Regions from separate parts of the Homo sapiens genome. Here region 2 is linked to region 1. Evidence: fine-mapped expression QTL. A gene starts in region 1. The other region holds a variant in brackets. All regions are shown on one strand. Distances are from middle to middle.

Region 1 (2,912 bases):
CATGGGATCATCAGCAGGACCATGAAACCTGGAGCAACACAAGAGAGAAGGCCAGGGTTATGCTGCCATTCTCACCTTCCCAGGCCCCACAGCTTACGGAAGCACAGGAGGTGGTCAGGGAGGGCTGATTTCATACAAATCAAGCTTTCTCCTTTCAGAAGGGACCCAGGAGGGCACTGTGCCCATCCCTTCATGCAGACCAGACCACGGGGGTCTCTTCCTGGCCTGGGTTGGTCCTAGAAGCTGATGGAAAGTTCCATGGGCTGAGGCTGCCCCCTCTCTATACCTCAGTAAAGGGCAGTGTGGATTCAGGAAGATTGTGGAAAAACTGCTGACTTGTGAGTTATTTAGAGAGATAGTTTCTCTTTCGGAACAAGAAACAAGCCTGTTTTGGGGCTAGAAAGAATCAATCTGGAAGGGCTGCATGGAGAGAGTTCATCTCCTGGGGAGGGCCTGTGCCTCTGCTCCCATCGTTTATGGCTTCCTGTTGCCTTTCCGCTACCTGGCTGTGGTAGGCAACCACAGCCTTGGAGACCTAGGGTCTGACAGGACTCCTTCGAAGAGATCTCTTTCACCTGGTGACCTTGGACTTCTCTGTCAACCTAATAGAACCTCCATGAAAATTTGCAAGGATGCCCAGGATCTTGGCCCCAGGCTGCCCTCTTGCAGGACAGACAATATGAGGTTGGAGAAGAGGTTCTTGGCAGTGGGCGCTTCTTGGATAAGGCCAACAGGAGGGACCTAAGAACATGGGAAAGACACAAAGACCCAGTGCAGGGGCCTCATTGACTCTGGGCTTTCAGGACAGAGAGAGGAAAGTCAAGTCATCTTCAGCCTGTTGAGAAAAGCCTTCCCTTGCAACATGAAGTCTCTTGGGCTGAAAGAGCCTAAGGGGGAGCCCACAGGAAAGGTAATCAAGGGACTGCAAGCCAGGAGGCATGGAGAGGGATAAAATGACCCTCTGAAGTTCTCCTGAGTCCTCCTGCTTCCTTGCAAATGGTAGCAAGTGGTCCCTGAACATCCACATCCCCACCTCCCCACAGCTCCCGAGACCCAGCCCACTATCCGACGGCTCACCTGCCCAGGCCACAGACCGCACCATGATGCAGCTCAGCGGCAGGCTGCAGCCCATACAAACCAGCTTTCCAGGTCCTGCTCTGCTTTTATCTGGCCACCCTGTCCCACCCCAGCCAGGAGTGTTGCAATCAGGGGCACTGGGTGGGGGGGATGGGAGCAGGGTGGGGAGGGGTAAGATGTCAAGCAGCATGAATTGGGCAAACTTGACACAATGGCCTTTAGCAATTCTTGCTTTTCTGGAACAATCAGAGGGTGACTCTTAGTGTTGCCAAACAGAGGAAAGCGGGAAGTGGCCCTGAACCTCCTGATGGATGAGCATGACCCTGACTTTCTTTGTGTAGTTGGTGAGGACCATAAGCAGCCCCAGACTTAATAGGGCTTTGGAGGAAGAGAAATGACTCACGAGTCAGGCAGCTGGGTTCCAGACCAGCTCTCTTGCTTCTCCACTGCCCTCTCTCAAACTGTTTCTCCATCTAGAAGATAATGGGGTTGCAAATATAATTTACTTTTCATGATAGTAATAGTTGCATATCCATTGATGGAGAAAAATAGATAATGATAAATAGTGACTATAAGTTTGGTAATGGCTTGAAATGCCTATGTTTCTTATGAAGAATAATAATGGTGGACATTTGGGCCAGGCATGGTGGCTTACACATGTAATTCCAGCACTTTGAGAGGCCGAGGCAGGTAGATCACCTGAGATCAGGAGTTCGAGACCAGCCTAACCAACATGGAGAAACCCCATCTTTACTAAAAATACAAAATTAGCCTGGCATGGTGGCACATGCCTGTAATCCCAGTTACTCGGGAGGCTGAGGCAGGAGAATTGCTTGAACCCAGGAGGCGGAGGTTGTGGTGAGCCGAGATCGCGCCACTGCACTCCAGCCTGGGCAACAAGAGTGAAACTCCATCAAAAAAAAAAAAACAAAAAAAAAAAAACAGAAGAATGGTGGACATTTGTGTCGGTTTCCCAGAGCTTCTGTAACAAATGGCCACCAAACAGGTGATTTGAAACAACAGAAGTTTATTCTTTCACAGTTCTGGAGGTCAGAAGCCTGGAAACAAGGAGTTGGCAGGGCCATGCTTCCTCCGAAGGCTCCAGGGGCGAATACTTCCCAGCAGCTTCCAGCTTCGGATGGCCTGTGGCATTCCTGGGCATGCAACGGCATCGTTCCAGCCTCTGCCTGCCTCCATTTTTACACGCCCTTCCTCGCTGTGTCTCTGTATGTCCCCTCCTTTCTGTCTCTGAGAAGGACATTCTAATCCAAGATGATCTCATCTTGAGATCTTTACCTTCATTACATTTGCAAAGACCCCTATTACAAATACAGTCACCTTCTGAGATTCCAGGTGAAGTTATCCTTTGCGGGGGGTGGGAGGGGGTCACCATTCAATTCACCACAGGACCCAAGTGGGCACATATTACTGTAATGTCTGCAGACAATGTCTGGTGTATGCATGAACTCCAGGGTCCCTGAGAAAGCTCTGCAGTTTCTAGGGGATCCAGTCTTTGGCCGGTGGGCTTAACATGAATGGCCTAGATGGCCACGTGGGAATATTGGGTGCGGCAGGCTGTGGAGTTAGGTTCCTGAGTTTGAATTCCTCCTCTGCCATTTACTATCTGTGTAAACTGAAGTGAGTTCCTTAATTTCCCTGAACTCCAGTTTCTTCATCTGTAAAGGGGAATCCTCAGAGGACTGTTGGGAACGCACTCCATGGTGGCTGCTATTATTCCTGGTTCTGCCAAGTGCTGCCACTTCTGCTGGTCTAGGGGTGTCAGAGGGCTCTAGTAACCTCTTCGAGGCCCCTGAGAGTGTTGGACCTCAGCACTC
Region 2 (2,912 bases), 110 kb before region 1:
TCCCTTCCGCGGGAACCCAGCACCTAGCGCGGCGGAGCAGGGAACTCAGGCTGCGGGACTGGGGTCTGGCCCTGCCCAGCTCCTCGCCCACGCCCAGGCTTCCGTTAGGCCAGCAGGGGGACCCCGAGCCCCGGACAACAGCCCTGAGCTGGGCGGCTGCTTCTGGCTCTAGATCCCGCTGCTCAGCCGATCCACCTTCCCCACCTCCCTCCCCCCAGCCTCAGTTTCCTCCTCTGAGAAATGGGAAAATGATTATACTTATTTCACCGGCAATGCTATGATAGTTAAATAATTCTAAACCATAAAGCGTTGTGAGACTTCCTTCTTGTACTCTTGAAGTGTATTATTTTGAACATTGAACATTCAGTCAATGTTTCTTGAGCTCTATGCCCCGGGAGCTATTTTAAGCCCTGGATGAAGTCTGTCCAACTCGGGCCGGGGATAGTGATTGAAATAGAAAAGCTCAGTAAGTGAAGGGCTCCTCTGTGTCTCCCACCCCACTTGACGAGCCAGATGGAGTGAGTGGCTTTTAACTGTAGAGTGGACCCCTCTAGCAAGCTGCTGTTTGCTTTTCTGGTGTGGAAGGTAGGACTTTGGGATGAGCCCACAGAGGACCAGGGAGCCCAGGCCATCCACTACCTCTTTATCCCGACCTGAGGAACGTGCACTTAGCGCAAATTCCCTTCCTTCCATGCCCAGTGCTCGCTGGTGACAGGGTTCAGGGCAGAGGGGGTGAGGCAGATCTGAAGGGAATGATTCTAGACTAGCACTTTGAGTTCTGCTTAACATCAGGGAGTTGGGGCCAGGATAAGACTGGAGCTGAGGGAATGGGCTGAAGCCGGAATCAGTGGCCAAGCCTCTGTGACCAGTTCTGATTCCTGAGTATAATGAGTGAATGCCTAGTGTTTCCACACCTGGCTTCCATCGCTGCTGGGAGGGGCTTCACTCAGAGAAATAACTATGAGAATGTGTACATGGTGGGCTCTCCTGCAGGCTCTCAGGGGACCCAGGGATACTGGCTGAGGACAGGGGCCATTTCATCCCAGTTAGCTTTTTACTGAGTGGAGCAAAAACTCGTTCCTTCCATGAAGCCTCTGGCTTCAGTCTCAGCCCTTACACCCCAGGACATGGTCCATGAAGCACCTAGTTAGGACTTCAGAAGGATGAGGTGATGGTTCACGTGGAAGATGTTGCTTTTCAGTTCCTTCTGTTTCGTTCCCTCAGTGGGCTGCAGACTCTCTGAGTGGGCTATTGTGATGAACTGGAAAGAACCTTGGAGTGGAAATCAGGAGGCCTGAGCTCACGTTTCAGCTCCAGCACTCAGTGGTTTCAGGCCTCTCCTTGAGCCTCAGTGTTTTAATCTGGCAAAGGGGAGCATAATAGCTTCCCACCCAGGTGGGGTGATGATACAGGGGATAAATGTGAGAAAGGGCCAGACATGTGTTCTGCCTTTTCTTCTGTCTGTATCTACCCTAGAAAAATGAAAACACATCCTCACACAAAAACCTGTACGTGGGCCAGGTGTGGTGGCTCACGCCTGTAATCCCAGCACTTTGGAAGGCTGAGGTGGGTGGATCACCTGAGGTCAGGAGTTTGAGGCCAGGCT[G/A]GCCAACATCGTGAAACCCCGTCTCTACTAGAAATACAAAAAATTAGCCAGGTGTGGTGGCTCACACCTGTAATCCCAGCTACTCAGGAGGCTCAGGCAGGAGAATCGCTTGAACCTGGGAGGCGGAGGTTGCAGTGAGCCGAGATCACACCATTGCACTCTAGCCTAGGCAACAAGAGTGAAACTTCGTCTCAAAAAAAAAATAAAATAAAAAAACATGTACACGAATGTTCATAGCAGCATTATTCACAATAACCTAAAAGTGGAAACAAGCTAAATGTCCATCAACTGAAGAACGGATAAACAAAATGTGGCTTGTCCACAGGATGGAATACTATTCAGCCTTAAAAAGGAATGAAGTATGGATACATGCCACAGTTCAGATGAACCTTGAAAACATTATGGTAAGTGAAAGAAGCCAGTCACAAAGGACCATGTATCCTATGTATCATATGATTCCATTTATATGAAATGTCCTGAATAGGCAAATCCATGGAGGCAGAAAGTAAATTAGTGGTTGCTAGGGATGGGTGGTGGAGGGAAGGGTTGGGAAGTGACTACTGATGGGTGCAAAGTTTTTTTGGAGGAAAGGTGATGAAAATGTTCTAAAATTAAATGATGGTGATGGTTGTACAATTCCATAAGTAACTCAAACCACTGAATTGTGCACCTTAAATGGGTGAACTTTATATTATGTAAATTGTATCTCAATAAAGCTGTTAAAAGTTTTTAATTGGGTGTCCTGAATTTAGTCTGGCAGCTTCACTTCTGCCCCTCCTTCCTTCTTTTCTCTAGTCTTGACAGCCTTCTTCTCCCTTTTGGAACATATAGAAGATAGTGGGGGTATTTGTCTTTCTTGAGGGACAAGGACACCTCTTGATGGGTGGGGAGGAATAAGGGAGCGATTAGGGAGTCAGATACCAGGCTGCCTCACCTCCAACAGATATCATCATCTCCCCTGCCTCAATTTCCCCTTCTGCCTAGTGAGGGGAGGGGAAACAGAGGATTGCTTGCCTTTGAACCCTTGGAGGTGCTGTCGGAGGAGTCCAGGAAGGTGGGGTGCATTTGCTGGCTGGGATGGGGTGGGCTGCACAGGACAGCATGAGCGCTTATGAGTCACATGGTGGATCTCCCAGACAGTGGTGGGGTGGCAGGCGGATTGCCCAGAGGCACCTCTTTGGCCGCAGACAGGGGCAGAGAAGCCAAGAAATCTGTGACTGGTGCCCCGTGGGCTAGGGTTAGGGGTAGGGGCTGGGCCACAGGCTGTCAGATGAAGAGGAGCTGGTGCTGGGAGAAGGCTGAGTCT

Evidence for each region. PIP is the estimated chance that this variant, and not a neighbour inherited with it, causes the effect.
Region 2: its variant is fine-mapped to the expression of CHIT1 in whole blood (TOPMed, PIP above 0.99).

What each region holds. Positions count from the first base shown.
Region 1 is chr1:203,228,535-203,231,446 of GRCh38, forward strand. CHIT1 (chitinase 1) reads right to left here and starts at 1,139. Exons shown (of 11, transcript NM_003465.3): 1 at 1,078-1,139; 2 at 1-28. The coding sequence starts at 1,102.
Region 2 is chr1:203,117,880-203,120,791 of GRCh38, forward strand. No RefSeq gene overlaps it. Among named protein-coding and RNA genes, the nearest start is that of ADORA1, 8.4 kb to the right of the region's middle. The variant G/A (reference allele first, on the strand shown) is at 1,607.